Regions from separate parts of the Homo sapiens genome. Here region 2 is linked to region 1. Evidence: fine-mapped expression QTL. Tissue or cell type: prefrontal cortex. Region 1 holds a variant in brackets; the other region holds the start of a gene. All regions are shown on one strand. Distances are from middle to middle.

Evidence for each region. PIP is the estimated chance that this variant, and not a neighbour inherited with it, causes the effect.
Region 2: CYFIP2 starts here. The variant in region 1 is fine-mapped to the expression of CYFIP2 in prefrontal cortex (ROSMAP, PIP 0.95).

What each region holds. Positions count from the first base shown.
Region 1 is chr5:157,375,697-157,383,802 of GRCh38, forward strand. It overlaps CYFIP2 (cytoplasmic FMR1 interacting protein 2), which reads left to right. Exons shown (of 31, transcript NM_001037333.3): 27 at 6,894-6,966; 28 at 7,569-7,663. All of the region lies in intron 1 of NIPAL4-DT (NIPAL4 divergent transcript), which reads right to left. Among named protein-coding and RNA genes, the nearest start is that of FNDC9, 34 kb to the left of the region's middle. The variant G/A (reference allele first, on the strand shown) is at 4,289.
Region 2 is chr5:157,261,055-157,269,160 of GRCh38, forward strand. It overlaps CYFIP2 (cytoplasmic FMR1 interacting protein 2), which reads left to right and starts at 5,069. Exons shown (of 31, transcript NM_001037333.3): 1 at 5,069-5,141. RefSeq lists a silencer at 4,976-5,495 and an enhancer at 6,176-6,285.

The DNA.
Region 1 (8,106 bases):
ACGACAATTTTTCTTCCAGTATGGCCCAGGGAAGCCAAAAGATGGTACACTCCTTCTCTAAGCCTTAGTTTCCACGCCTGAAAAGTGCTGGGACTGAGGAGCTACCTCACAGAGTTCTTAGTGTTAAGTGAGGTAATGAATGCGAAGTCTCCAGCGCTTAAGAAGCAGGTCCTCGGTTACCAAGAGCCCCCTTTCCTCCTCTTGCCATCAGCAAAGAGACTTGAATCGGCCTTTTCTCTAAGCCCCGTTAGAACTGAAAGCCTGGCTCCTGACTGCCCATAGCACTGTGGCCCACACTCCTCACAAGCCCAAGCCAAGGATGCCCCACTCCTTTCATATCAGCCACCTCATTTTATCCCTGATTTCATCCTCCTCCTGAATGGGATGGCACCTTTCCTCCCAGTTCAAAACCCTGCCCCTCCTCTCAGGCCCATCTCACAGCCATCATTTCCTCATCCTCCACAAACCGCTGGTCCTTTTATTCAACACACATTTTATCAAATGCCTTTCTCTGCAAGGAACTTGGTGGTGTTTCTCTCTCTTCTCAGTCTCCAAAGCCCTTTGTCAGCAACTTCTCCTATTGCACCCAATTGATTCTGTTTTATTTCTCAGTCACGGGTGTCCTTGGATCTCTTCTCCACTAGATGGTAAACTTCATTGAAATCTCATTTTTACAGAGCTCTACCTGTTGTAGTGTTTCCCACAGCATCCAGGCCCTTCCCTGGCTCCATGGTGTGTTTCATCTTCATCTCTGTGCCTTTGAGTTGTCTGCCAGATCACAGAGCAAGCACTCAATAGATATTTGGTGACCTAAAGAAAGGAATAAAGAGGTAGCAGCAAATGCAGAGAAGTGGCATCTTCCCTATTTCTGACTTGAAAGGTGTCTTTTTATCCCTGTTTAGGTTGTATGCTAGTAGACATGGAAATGTTCAGAATTTATGTATTCCCTTGAACTCAAGGAGCACTTTGTGCTGTTTTTCTCTTGGGTCTCATATAGTCAGAGGAACTGAAGTCTCCGGAAGGGTCTTGGTCACCCTGAGAAGCACCCACTTATGCAAACCTTGCACTTGCACAGTTCCTTTCCCCTGGGGTCAGCCTCCATCCCATGCTGACTTCCAAGCTCAGATCTACTCTGCAGACTCTGCAGGGCCTAGGCCTCACATCTAGTTGCCTTTTAGACATCTTCTCTTCCGTGTCCACACACATCAGAAATTTACCTTGCCTGAATCTGACCTTGGCTTCCTCCTGCCTGCAGCCTTGCTGTTCTCTGACTCCATAAACGGTACCAACGTCATACAGGTGCCCTGGGCAGGGGTCCTTTTACTCCCGCCCTCAGGTCCAGTCATCAGGTCTCTGGCCTCTGCTCACTTCCTTCTATCTCCTTTGCCGCTACTCCTGGCCCTGCTTTCTCCTGCTTGGACTCTTCCAACACCCCCTTTGCTCTCCCCAATCCTTTCTCCCTTGCAACCAGAAGGTGAAACTGCAGCTTGGCCATTTCCCTGATGAAAACCATCAGGATAATGTCTAGAAATCTAAGAGAGGCTTAGAAGATTCTTCCCAAACCACTCCTGCCCACCCCTCCTTCCTGTCTCACATCACTTTCCTCTAGCACTGAAAGCTTCAGTCTACCTTGGCTCTCAGCCCTGCCCTACTGTGGCCTCTTGCTTTGGGGCCTTTGCAGGTACTGTTCCCCCTTAGCTGTCCAACACTCACCCCTGGTTCAACTTAGCGTCCTTCTTCAGAAAGTCTTCCCTATCATCCTCCCCAAAAGTCTGAATTGGTTGCTCCTCTTTGCATCCCCATAGACCCCAGGCATACCCCAATTGTAGCACTTACTAGAATTGCCCATTCTAGTTTTGACTTATTTTGTCATCATCTTGGTAAGGGTTGTGCATCTGGTCTCCCTCACCTACTCCAGCACCTTGCAGAAAGCCTTGTGCCTATTATTTGCTATATAAATGAAAGAATGACAATCTCTGGCTCAGGCTCTATTCAAGTCAGAATGAAAGTCTTCAGAATTTGGTACAACCTTGTTGGGTATCTAGATCCTATTATACACATGTTCTCTGTATTCTTGCTGGCCTCTCATATCATGCCAATGAGAAAAATATAGAGAACGTGCAGGTCCTGCACATGGGTTGTCCCTCAAGAAGATTCTCAATCAATGTTTACATGAGATGTGGGTCACTGCCCTGGTCCTCCATCAGCAGCTCAGATTTCAGGACCCTGGGCTAGATAAGACAGCCCAATGTGCAGATGGCTTAGTGGAAGCCCTGAATGAATAAAAGCTCTGGTAAGTTTTTAAAAAGCAAAGGCACTGTGGGCTGGAGGGGCTTGGAAGACTCCTAGAAGGTAAAACTTAAATGGGGCTTTATGGGATGGATAAGACTGGGTAGAAAACTTTGGGTGGGGGTAAGAGGGTCAGGGAAGAAGGAATTTTTGGGTACAAACTGACGTGAGTGGTCTAATTATAGACTTGGAATAACATCAACAGATTTATAAAAATTAGTCCATCTGCAAAGAAATTATTTAAACCAATTCAGGATTGAGGCTACCTCTGGAAGTTGGGAATAAAGGTATCAGTAATTTCCTATTTCTTTGTACAGAAGAAGGTAGCTCAGACTCTTGTTCTTCTTCAAACTGCATATATACCACAGTTTCAAGAATGTTAGTTGCTATAACCAAAAACCCAATAAGTCAACAAATGATATGATCCTGTCAGATGTGAGTGAGGCTGAAGTTTCTTAGGTGTTAAGATTTTAAGTGATTTTCTGTTTCTATTCTTGGTAACTTTGCAATTTAATGACATGTATATATAATGAAGGGGGAAAGTCAGGCTTCCCAAGGCTTTGGCTGCATTGGCTGCCATGGAAAAACAACGGGTGTCGAAGTGGAGTGGCTCCTGGATCGAAATGTCAGCCTTACTGCTTATTTAAGCATCTGTGTGCGGACCTAGTTAGGAAAGTTCACCTTACTACCAGCCTTGATGTCCTTGTCCACAGGATGGGGACAGTGAGCCCTATCTCACAGGGCTGTCCAGAAGCATAAAGCAGGCGACTGACAGAAAGCAAATAGCTCATTCGTTAGTGCTCAGTAATGTTCATTGCCTCTCCTTCTCTGAAGAGAAAAGTGGTTGTATTTTACAGACTCTTGGTTCTAGAGACTTGGAGACCATTTAATCCAGCCTCTTCATTTTGTTTAAGTTGCTAATTGCACATTATAACTTAATTCCATTAAGTTCTTAATTGCACATTATAACAAATCAAATACTACAGATGAGCTTTTGATGAAAAACATCCTACTTGGCTCCACTGCACCTCTGCCCACCTGCATTCCCAATTCCCAGGGCAGCCTATCCTGTTTCCAGTTCTTCCAGTTACCTCCATAACACTCATGAGGGTAACCTATTTCTTAATTAGCAACTTTAGACAATACTTACTGACTCCCTACTTGGAAAGATGAGATTTTATCTCATTTATCTCTCTCCCTCTCTTCCTTTCAAAATTTGATTATATTACTGCTTCTGTTGTTTTCTCTTGTCATATCTATATGATTATAGATAATATACTTACATCTCTACTGCTGCTTTTGGTAACAGGATTTAGTATCTTGACTCCTTTCCATGAAAGGACAAAAGACTGAGGAAATTACCCCATAAATTAAACTTAAATGAAAGGAGCCAATTCCTTAAGAGACACAAACCGCCAAAACTCACTTAAAAATTGATAAGCTGAATAGTGCTGTATCTATTAAAGAAATATCATTCCTACTTATAAAAAAAAACTTCCAACAAAAAAAAACTCCCAACTCTGTCTCTACAAAAAAATTAGCCAGCTTGGTGGCACTTACCTGTAGTCCCAGCTATTCAGGAGGCTGAGATGGGAGGATCACCTAAACCCAGAAGGTCAAGACTAGTGAGCCATGATTACACTACTGCATTCCAGCCCAGGCAAGGGAGCAAGACCCTGTCTCAAAAAAAAAAAAAAAAAAAAAAAAACCCACACCAGACGCAGATGGTTTCACTTGTGAATTCCATCAAATATTTAAGGAGGAAATAGTACCAATTCTACATGGTCTCCTCTGTAACCGCCCAGCAGGTTCGCCTTGCCCACTGCCCAGACAGAGCCTATTTATCCAGACAGGGGAATTGCAAGGGACAAAGAGTAATGCATGCAAAGCTGGCCATGCAGGAGACTGGAGTTTCATTATTACTCAAATCAGTCTCCTTGAGCATTCGGGAATCAGATAATTTAAATAATTTAATTATTTAAAGATAATTTGACAGGTA[G/A]GAGCTTAGGAAGCGTGGAGTGCTGATTGATCAGGTTGGAGATGGAATCATGGAGGGTCGAAGTGAGTTTCTCTTGCTGTTTTCTGTTCCTGGGTGAGATGGCAGAACTCCTTGAGCCAGATACCAGTCTGGATGGTGTCAGCTGATCCACTGGAGTGCAGGGTCTGCAAAATATCTCAAGCACTGATCTTGGGTTTTACAATAATGATGTTATCACCAGGGGCAATTGGGGAGGTTCAGACTCTTGGAGCCAGAGGCTCCGTGACCCCTAAACTGTAATTTCTAATCTTGTAGCTAATTTGTTAGTCCTGCAAAGGCAGACTGGTCCTCAGGCAAGAAAGGGGTCTTTTCAGGAAAGGGCTATGATCAATTTTGTTTCAGAGACAAACCATGAACTGAATTCATTCCCCAAGTTAGTCCGGCCTCTGCCCAGGAGTGAACAAGAACAGCTTCCAGGTTAGAAGCAAAATGAGGTTCATTAGGTCTGATTTCTTTCACTGTCATAATGTCCCCTGTTATAATTTTGGAAAGGTGGTTTTGTCTCCAAAAAATACAAACAAGGGGAACTCTCCCCATCTTTTGAGGTCAACATTACCCTAATACCAAAACCTAAGGCATTTGAAAATAAAACTACAAATCAGTATCCTTCATGAATACAGAGCAAAAATCCTCAACAAAATGTTAGCAAATAAAATCGAGCAATACATCAAAAGTATAATATAATCAAGTGGGTTTATTTCAGGTATGCAAGGCTGACTCATCATTCAAAAATCATCCAATGTAATTCACCATGTGAATATGAAAGATTAGCCTGAATGATCAGTAAGCAAAGTTTTCAGGTTATATGATGAATCAAAGGATCTAAGCTTAGACATAGCAATGAAGGCCAGGTTATGGGATTTACTAGAAAGGAAAGAAACAAACACCTCACTTAAGAAAGGAGGAAAGGGCCGTGCGCAGTGGCTCACACCTGTAATCCCAGCACTTGGGTAGGCCAAGGCAGGCAGATCACCTGAGGTCAGGAGTTTGAGACCAGCCTGGCCAACATGGCAAAACCCCATCTCTACTAAAAATACAAAAATTAGCCAGGTTCAAACATAGAAAATGATAAACAGAGTGAAATAATACGGACCTATATATCCGACCACCAGCTTAAGAAAGAAAACATTGTAAATAGAATAAAAATTGTGTTTTTCCACCACATACTACCTTGCCTTCCCTTTCCACTGAGACATAACCACTACTCTGGATTTGGTAGTTCTTACTCCCACGAATTTCTTTATTACTTTACTTTGTACATATGTATCACTGAACAATACATATCATTATTGTACATGTTTTTAGATGTAAATAAATGCTATCACATTGTAGGTATGATAAAAAAAAAAAAAAATTAGCCAGGCATGATGGCGAGCGCCTGTAGTCTCAGCTACTCAGGAGGCTGAGGCAGGAGTAATTGCTTGAATACAAGAGGCAGAGGCTGCAGTGAGCCGAGATCATACCACTGCACTCCAGCCTGGGCAACAGAATGGGACTCCGTTTCACAAAAAAAAAAAAAAAAAAGGGGTGAGGGGGAAGTTTCCCCTCTGGATAAGAAACTGAGAATGACAGTCAGATCAGGCTCCTGTGAGGGGACTGCAGAGTGTTCTTCCTCTGGTAGCCTCATTTCTAGGACTGATCTGCAGTTAAACAGGAGTTGGGGCTCCCCTCTTGAACAGCTGGCCTTTCAGAGTCCTGGATTGGCAGTGTTCCATCCATGCCCGGGGTAGAAGAAGGCAAGGACACCTGCAATCTTGATTTTCTCAGATGCTTAGAATCCCAAAGTGTCAGAGTTTGAAATGGAGCCTGGATCCTACCTAATCCAAATGCCCATAGTTGAAGAGAAAGCAAACCCCGGCAGAGGATGGCTTCTCCAGACTCCTTCCCTCCCCTTTGTTCTGAAATCCAGGGATTGTGAGCATGTCCCAGGACAGTAAGCCCATGAGACCCTATCTCCCGTCTTGCCCTAACCAAGCTTCCCCTCCAACCACTGTATGTTTGCTTTTAAGTTTATCTTTGCACATAACAAATAACCATTGAAACCAATCTGGCCTGGGTTCTCGTCCCTCTTTTCTTGCTAGTTGATGTCTGGTGTGGAGAAAACCAATCAGACATAGGCCTTTACACAGAGTCCTAGATTTGTAGACTGGAAGACTGACCTAGCCACCTGCCTTGAGCCTACAGACCTCACAACCAAAAAGACACAGACTGAGGCCCATCATATGTTTGATTCTGTGTAATCCATCCTAATTCAACAAATTCCTGATAAGATTATAGTAAAAATGTATTGAGCTCTCATTATGTACCTGTGACTATTCCACAAGGTTATGCATTTTCTCGTTTGATCCTCACAACCCATTAAAATAGGTACTGTTCTCATCCTTATTTTGCAGATAGATAAAAAGACTCAGAGAAGCTAAGTAACTTGCCCAAGGTCACAGTGAGTAGAAGAGCCAGGATTTGAACCCAGGTCTAGCTAACTCCAGTGCTCAGGTTTTTAGGAATGAAAAATCTTCCTGGTTTAAAATGAAAATTGTTTTCTCTTTCTTTACCCCCATCTCTGCAGTCTCAGGAGGAGGTCTGCGATTTGCTCCATGCCGCACCCTTCCAAAACATCTTGCCTAGAGTCTACATCAAAGGTAAGAAACCACTACAGCAGCTGAATAGCCAACTGGCGTTTGAACCTTATTCTCACTTCCTAATTGCAGTCAACTCAGATCTAGTCAGCAAGGGGGAAGGTTAAAGCTTTGGACACCTATTGAATAGCCACAGAATCACAAATTGGAAGATGGACCTAGCCACCTGCATTGAGCCTGCTGACCTCATGACCAACCAGACAGACTCTGAGGCCTATTATCTTTGATTCTGTCATTCATTCAAATTCTTCAACAAATTCCTTATAAGATTATAGAAATGACACTCCAGGCCCTGTCCCTTGTTCCTTCTAACATATCTCTAGTATAGTGATATCTAGACTTGGAATTTAAATATATATATTAATATATTAAACCACTATACTAGAGATATTCTAGAAGGCAGACGATTCCATTCTTGGACAAATCATAGAACATTTTTCCTTGTAAAAACTACTCACACTTTCCAGAACGAAGGAGAGCAGTTCCACACACTCCATCCCATTTTTGGAATGCAGATACATCATCAGGTCCTTTGGGAGTTTTTCCTTCCCCAGTTGCCCTGTGTTCCCTGAGTCTCATTTTCTGCTCTGCGACTCCTTTTGCAGAGGGGGAGCGCCTGGAGGTCCGGATGAAACGTCTGGAAGCCAAGTATGCCCCGCTCCACCTGGTCCCTCTGATCGAGCGGCTGGGGACCCCTCAGGTACCAATCTTATATAATAAATGGGCTCTGATCACTGACAGGAACTTGAGAGCATTTGACCAAACCCCCTCATTGTACAGGTCAGGAAACTGAGGCTCAGAGAAGGGAAGACAATGTCCAATACCCAAAAACTGGTTAATATTAATAGCAACAGCAGGTCTGGAATGAGATTTGCTGACTCTCAGGCCTGAGTGTTTCTTCTGTAGCCTGTATCATGTATCCTGCCAACAAGTCGTCTGCTTATTTAAACAAGTATCTACTGTGTCCCTGGTAGATATCAAGAATCTGTTACTTTGCCTCTGAAAATTAAAACTCCACATACTCTGTGAGCCAGCAGTTCACTTCTGGATACTTTTGCTAAAGAAACACTTAACGGAACACTAGATGCTTATGTAACATTGTTTGTTAAAGCAAAAACTAGAAACAACCCAAACATCTAATAG
Region 2 (8,106 bases), 110 kb before region 1:
GCTTTAAATTGTCATATAATGACTTCACTTTTTCCTGACTTATATTAGAGTCTATGGGTACGTCTTTCTTATAGCAATCTTTATAGCAACGCACCCACCTAAAACCTGCATTTTCAATATGAGCTAAAATGGTATTTAACAAAAAGTGCAAGGTTTTCATACCTGCTGGGAGCCGCAGCTACGGCTTCATGAATTTTCTTTCCTTCTTTCTCTCTTTCTCTTTCTTTCTTTCTTTTTACAGTGGTCCTTATGCTAAATTCATTCATCTTAAAATGATGGACAACTGCAGCTGCAGACCTCAATCTATGGTACATATCAAGAAAATTCAGCTTTTTTCTTGTAATGTTATGACTTTTCTCTGCTTTTTGGGAACACTTTCAGCATCACTAGTGTCACTTCATGTGGGTTCCATGGTGTTATTCAAGGTTTGCTGTATTACACTAAACATGATGAAAAATGTTTCATCATGAGAGATGAATTGCTCACTCAGAGATGATTAGCATCACACAGCACTTGAAGTGGATACTGGCAACACTTGAGTTCACCACAATAGCAACAAGAGATGGCCACAGGCCAGGCGTGGTGGCACACACCTGTAATCCTGGCACTTTGGGAGGCCGAGACGGGAGGATCACCTGAGATCAGGAGTTCGAGACCAGCCTGGCTAACATGGTGAAACTACATCTTTACTAAAAATACAAAAATTAGCCAGGTGTAGGGGCACATGCCCATAATCCCAGCTACTCGGGAGGCTGAGGCAGGAGAATCACTTGAACCTGGGAGGCGGAGGTTGCAGTGAGCCAAGATCATGCCACTGCACTCCAGCCTGGGCGACAGAGTGAGACTCTGTCTCAAAAAGAAAATCATAATAATAATCCCATTTTTGAGCATTTATTATGTACCAGACTCTGCTTAGTGTGTTACATTATCATTTCATATAACCTTCACAAGAATCTAAGGGATATACTTTTTTGTTTTGTTTTGTTTTGCTTTGTTTTGATACAGTGTTTTGCTCTGTTGCCCAGGCTGGAATGCAGCCGCACCATCTTTGCTCACTGCAACCTCCACCTCCTGGGCTCAAGCAATTCTCTTGCCTATAAAATGAGGCAATTTTGAGCAAGTGGTCAGGTTCTATCTACAGAATGGCCAATGTAAATTCTGTAACTGACCATCAAGTTTATCTTTTCCTGCCACCCACATAAATACTTAGAACCAAATGTGTTAGCAAGCTCATAGCAGGTAGAGCTGTGATTGATTTTTGTTTTGTTTACATTTTGGTCTTATGTACATTCGATTCTCCATCTCATCTCTCTACTCTTTTCCTTCTTTTTAAAAAATTTCTTGCTGATTTTTAATTTTTTAACATAATGTATTCCTGTAACTTACATTTAATATGTTTTTAGAATAAGGTAGCATATTAGTAAACAAATGGACTTAGCTTGGAAGAGGGAAAGTGAGGCTGTATGAGATTGTGGTAAAAAGCATGGGTTTGACTTCACTACCTTGGGCAAATTATTAAACCTTAATTGCCTCAATTATAAAAATGGGAAAAATGATTGTATTTTCCTTATAGAAAAATTACGAAAAATTAAATGAGGTAATGTACTTGGTAAATGTTAGCCATTATTATTATTATCATTATTTATGTTTTCCCTTCATGCCCATTCCAGATACTTCATTACTGGTGTCTATAAAGCAGGGTCTCCTGATAGTTTTAAAATACATATATATATATATATTTTTTTTTTTTTTGAGACAGAGTTTTGCTCTTGTTGCCCAGGCTGGAGTGCAACAGTGTGATCTCGGCTCACTACAACTTCCACCTCCCGGGTTCAAGCAATTCTGCCTCACCCTCCTGAGTAGCTGGGATTACAGGCGCTCGCCACCATGCCCAGCTAATTTTTTGTATTTTTAGTAGAAACTGGGTTTCACTATGTTGGCCAGGCTGGTCTCGAACTCCTGACCTCAGGCAATCCACCTGCCTCGGCCTCCCAAAGTGCTGGGATTATAACTTGAAGCTTTTCTAAAACACAAGGTAATGTTGCCACATGGACAACATGTGGGCCACAGCTTTGCAAGTACCAAAGCAATTCTTATTGATATCCTCTACCATTTCATTGCTGATGCACAGCTTGGGGTTGGATGTGAAGGAAATCTGAAGGCAGTAGACAGACAGCTATACATTTCAGTGGCAAAGTTTAAAAATGTCACCTATGGGTGTTCATTCCATCCATTTTTACTGAACTCCTGTTAAGTACCAGGCTCCAAGGATGCAATGGGAAAGCAAGACAGACATATCCCTGCTCCCTTAGATTTTATGGTCTCATGGTGGAATACAGGGAAGTGTGTTGACAATTATAATGCAGACTAATACGTGGGGTGATAGAGGGAGCCCAGGCAGCTAAGGACACATAGACAACTAATCTCAAGCTAACCCAGACATGTAGGAATCTTGGAGGAAGCGACATCTAGAGGAATACCAGGAAGATGAACAGAACTTCATCAGGTAAACTGGGAAAAAGTGTGGAATGTGGAGGGAGGGAATGGGGGGACAGAAACTGCCATTGAAGAAGCCTTGCATGTACGAATGTCGAGCACAACAGAGAACACAGCAAGTTTGAGGAACTAAAAGCTGTTCCTTTTAGCTGAAGCACAGCAAGCTTGTTCACATGGAGAGATAGCTGCCAGCTCTTAAAGACCCTCTCCGGCCACTGGAGAGTTTGGGCTTCATCGGGGGGCAGTGGGGAGCTAGGGAAGTGCCTTAAGCCTGGGAGGGACGTGCCCTTTAACTCATGTAATTTTCCACATTCAGAGGGAAGTTGGAGAGCATCCAACTTACTTCACTTAACAGGTGAGGAAACAGGGGTGAGGCTCCTTGCCTAAGATCATTCTTCTGTTAGTTGCAAAACTAGAACCAAAAGGCAAGCCTCTGGATTTCCAACACAGTGGCTTCAAAAGACCATACTGCTCTCCTTTATACACAAATAGAACTCAGAGGTCGGAGTTATTTTTGCCTAAGATCTAACCAAATATATATGTAATAGTCTTTTCTGTTTTTAGGCAACTTGTTCCTGAAGGTGAAAAGACAGGGAAGGAACAACAGGGAGAAATACGTCTTCCAAAAAACTATACCATCTGCAATAATATGCCCCTTAGAATGAAAATCTGATTTATTGGGATTCTCATTGTTAAGTATTTGTAATCACTGAACTTGAAATCCCAAGGATCACGGTGGAAAATGAAACATTTTTTAAAAAGGAAACCTCAGTTCTGTTTTTAAACCCATCCTCCACAAACACCCCCACAGCTTTTCACACTGAACCAGGGAAGAAATGTATGTGTGTGTATATATATATATATATAAGTCATTTTTTTCCGAAATAGCAATTTGAATTGGAATTAGCGATTTAAGATCAAACCACAAGGAATTATGGATTCTGAGCACGTGGGAAATAAGGTGAGATCAGTAAAGGAAAGCAAAGGCTTCCACAAGTCCTTTGCTGGAGCTTGAATAACGGGGCTCCTCCACAAATTGCCCTTATTAGGAACAGCTGAGTGATTAAGTATAAATTTGTGGGCCTTAGGAAACCACTCCTTATATCTACATACACTCCACAATGTCTCAAATGTTTTCAAATTATTTACCCTGTAAGGTATAAAGGGCAACTGTTATTCCCTGTGTTGCAGATACGGTGACCTCTGTGGAGCAGAGTGGTGAAGTGACCTGCTCAGGTGTCTCAAGGTTAGAATTTGGTGCAGCCTGACTTCAGCCTGGTCTGAAGGCCTACCAGGCTGGATTTCAATGAGAATTGTTTCTTTCTCTTTTTCTTTTCTCTCTTTCTTTCTCTTCTTTCTTTCCTTCTCTTCTTTCTCTCTCTTTCTTTTTCTTTCTTCCTTTCTCTCTCTCTCTCTCCCCCCGTCTCTCTCTTTCATTCTTTTTTTTTTTTTTTTGAGACAGAGTCTCACTCTGTCACCCAGTCTGGAGTGCGGCGGCAGGATCATAGCTCACTGTAGCCTCAATCTCCCAGGCTCAAGCAATCCTCCCACCTCAGCCTCCTGAGTAGCTGGGACAAAAGGTGGATGCCACCACACCCATCTATTTTTTTTTTTTTTTAATTTTTAGTAGAGATGAAGTTTCGTTGAGTTGCCCAGGATGGTCTCCAATTCCTGAGCTCAAGCAATCCTCTCTCCTCGGCCTCCCAAAGTTTTGGTATTACAGGTGTGAGCCACCGCTGGGCAGATAATTGCTTCTTTAAAGAGCCCGACACGGCAGATAAGCCTTGAAGAGAAAGGTACCTGTCCTCTCAGTGCTTCCTGCCACCTATTTGTCCGTTAGGCAATTCTTCCAGAATGAAGTTGAGGCAGGCCCCTGTAAAAGAGGTGGCAGCTTCAGGGACTCTTCTCCAGGGAACTGGAAGGGAGCGGAAGAACTTATTCTTAAGCGAAGGAGCCCTATCAGCGACCAAGCTCAATTGGTGGAAGGCCCCTTCCCCTAGCCCCAGTTGCATCTTCTGTCACTTCACCCTGCTCCTTCTCCTCAGAGCACTTTGGGCTGTAACTGGACGTTTGCTAGGTTAATTTACACCTGTTTCTCCTGGCAGGTGATAAAACTCCAAGGGGGCAGGACCCTGTCTTTTGTACACCAGTGCACACCCAAGTCCTGGCACGGTACTTGGAACAGGATAGGTAATCAATAAAGACTGGGTTGATAAAAGAGCACTTGGAAATCATGTGGGGCCAATAAGATCCGAACGCGGCCGAAGCTCTCGTCCTCGGGTTGCTGCAGGTGTGGTTCCCGGTGATGGAGGCCGTGGAAGAAGCCTTCCCTCCCTTTCCCGCCCCCAGGGCAGGAAGCCTGGGGGCTGAGCGGTCCTCCGAAACCGAGAGGCAGGTCCTGGGTGCGCCGGCGGTACAGCGGAGAGCGTGGAGAGACCCTCGCCGCAGCCATTTCCTGCCCTTTGTGTGACAGCCGCTGCGGCGAAGGGGCGGGCGCTGGGTGGGGGCGGAGCCGCGGCGGGCGGAGCAGCGGGGCCGGGGCGGGGCCGAGCGCGGCGCAGCGGAGCGGGGCAGAGCATCCTGCGCCCCGGCGCGGGGCCCTGCGGTAGCCTCAGGCCCCTCCCCTGGACCCGCCGCAGAGCCAGGTAAGCGGCCCTCGCAGGCCTCGGGCCGGGCACGGGGACTAGGATGCCGCCGGGGACGGGGATGAGGCCGTGAGGATGCGCGAAGGGCCGCCCCCTCTCCCGGCCCGCGGGGGGCGCTCGGCGCTGTGCCCGGGCTAGCCCGAGGCCCGGCCTCAGGCCCCACGCGGCCCCTTTCCCCCTCGGACCCACCGTGCGTCCCGCGGCACGGACCCTCTGCCCGGGAGGCGCGGGCACATCGCGGAGCTCCGGCGCGGCGGCGGGGGAGCCGCAGCAGCAGGTGCGCGGCCTGGGCCGGAGCCGCCAGCCCGGGAGGAGGCGGTGCTAATCTCAGGGACCGGAGACACCTGCAGCGGCCGCGAGCCCGGCAGCGGCGACATCCTCGAGTCCAGGTACTGCAGAGCGCTGGCCCCTGCCTCTGCCGCCGTGACCACCGTCACCTCCCCCAGGGCCAGCGAGAGCCGCCTGGGCCCGCCTGGCAGCCGCCTCGGGCACACAGAACGTGTGATGGGTGGGGCGAGGGGCGCAGCGTCGATGTTTGGGGGCGGAGGGCTTTGATGAGAGAGGAGCAGGTCTGACCCGCTTGGAAGCTTTCTGGCCTACACTAGCATCGCTCACCAAGCTGGCTGCGGGCACGGTGGAAGTGGGGGAAGGGGATGAGTGGGCTGACTCCTGGGGGAAAAGGTGGTTTTTTTCTTGAGCTCTGAAGAACCAGGAAGATGCTTGCCTGTCTGTTGTGGCGTCTACTTTTCAGGTCAGCCCTACCCCTCACCCCAAAGAACAGCCCACCTATGTGCAAAAGAAGAGGAGGAGGTGCTCTCTGCTTGGGGATGGGGGCAGGTAGCATGTTCCACATAAGTATGGCCCTCTATATCCAGAACCCGGCTGGAAAGGACACTGACAGCCCAGGTGCCTCCCCAGCACAGGGAATCTGATTTTGACCTTTGCTTGCCTACTTTCCCCAGCACAGTGGAAACACTCACCAGGGCTGATGAGCCATCAGCTGTCCTTCCAGCTAGGCCAAGAATGGGACAAGGATCTTTTTCTGCTAGTTCCTGGGTGCCTGTGCCCTCAGCATGGGCAGGGAGACGGAGGCAGGCCTGCTGGCAGGAGGGGCAAATCAGGAGACTGTCGGTTCCTGTGTTCCCATTTCCTGCCTCCTGTCTGTGTCCCAGTTAGGGCAGTGGGTCTCACCTTACTCTTGGATACAGGCTGTGCCAGCAACCTGGGTCCCTGAGATCTTAGAGGGCAAAAATCAGGTCCATATCTTTGGGCAGGCCTGTGAAGGCCTTGATGGTTGCTTTCTCCACCATTAGACCCTCTCTCTGTGGCCCTCCTGGTGGCCTCCCACCTCCACTTCCATACAGTGCCCTGCCCTTCCCCCAGTCTCCAGTGTCAGAAATGGTTTTCAAGAAAGGAGCCAATGATTGTGTTTATCTTGAAGAGCTAAATACAAAAGAAGTTCCCATTTGATGCAGAGCAGGTGCTTTACAAGTCATTTGACCGGAAAAGAAACAGAGGATGGAGGCATTTTAATGGGAAACAAAGCTTTAATGGGAAACACTGTAGAAATATTTGCTATCACTAATGGTAGAATTTCAAACAGTGGGCTGGAAGTGGAGGTGGGGAGCTGGGTAGTTCTTTTGGGAACGGGTCCCTGAAATGACAATATCTAGCAGCTGTCAGCTCTGTATTTGGCAAGGGCAGCTTTGGCCCTGCAGGCAGGAATGCTGTAAGAGTGTGTATGCATGCATGTGCATGCGTGCATGTTTGTTTGACTGGTCAGGTGTTACTGTCACCAGAAGGCATTTTTTGAGCACCCAGTGTCCACTTTCGGGATGAGAAACTTGTGTACACAGGGTTCCTCGTTGGCATTGGCTGCCCTTTGCCAAGGCAATTATTAGACCTCAAGAAGATAGTGTTGTTGCTTACAAAGTCAGTGCCTCTAGCTAGTTGTGCGCACTGAGCCTCTGGCTGGGGGCATTAGCTCTCTGCTCACTAAGCTTCTTTATTATATTTCCTGGCCAGTTCTGACCGGTTCTGTAGGCACCCAAGGCTGCCTTGTTCAGTCCCTGCTGGAAAATGAAAAAGGAAAAACTTGCTTTAGGCATTAGGCCAAGAGTCGGATGTACAACCCAGTGGGGTTGGAGAGTTTTACTCAAATCAGATGCTGGCCCAGAGAAGGAAGTAGACATGAATTCAAAAACCGGTAAAAGGCCCTGGTAGAACACTACATGACCCCTCTGATAAATCATGCCCTCTCTGATGTTCAGTGGCCTCTGCTGCTGTCATCAACCAGAAAGCTGAATGAGATGATGAATCGGCTACAAGCTAATTAACGGGAAAAGCGCTCCTGGAAAACAGTACGGGTCCCAGTCCCTACGTTTAAAGATTGGACTACACTCTCAACGCAGCTTCTTTGGACCACTGTTGGCCCCAGGGGTCCACCAAAAGCGTCACAAAATGGCCTTTTGTAGCCTCCATGTGGCCACCGTAACAATGAGTCTATTTCTTTACTGGCAAGTATTAATTATTCACTTGTAATTGACAAAGCCAGACATCAGTCACCTCACTGGAGTCTTTATGAAAGGCTTTTGGTCCTGTCATTCTGAGGAGCAAAGCCATGCCTAGGGTCCAGGGGATGGCCCCTGCATCAGTAGTGAGATGGTGGGAGAAGGGGGGCAGGCTGCTGCCTTCTTGGCAGTGAATGGAGGCAGGGGAGGAACTAGAATATCTTTGGATGCTCTTACTACCCAAGGGGTGCATGAAAGTGCCGAGCAGAATGCTTAGCACATAGTAAGTACTAGCATATTTATGTATTTATTGTTATAATGTATTAATTACATAATCATTAAGAATTTGGCTTATGTATGTAATCAACCCTTGGCTATTACCAGCCCCTCTCCCTCCAGAGCTTTCCTGAATTTTGCTTTTTTGAGGGAAGTTGGTCTCTGTGACCAGTAAACCC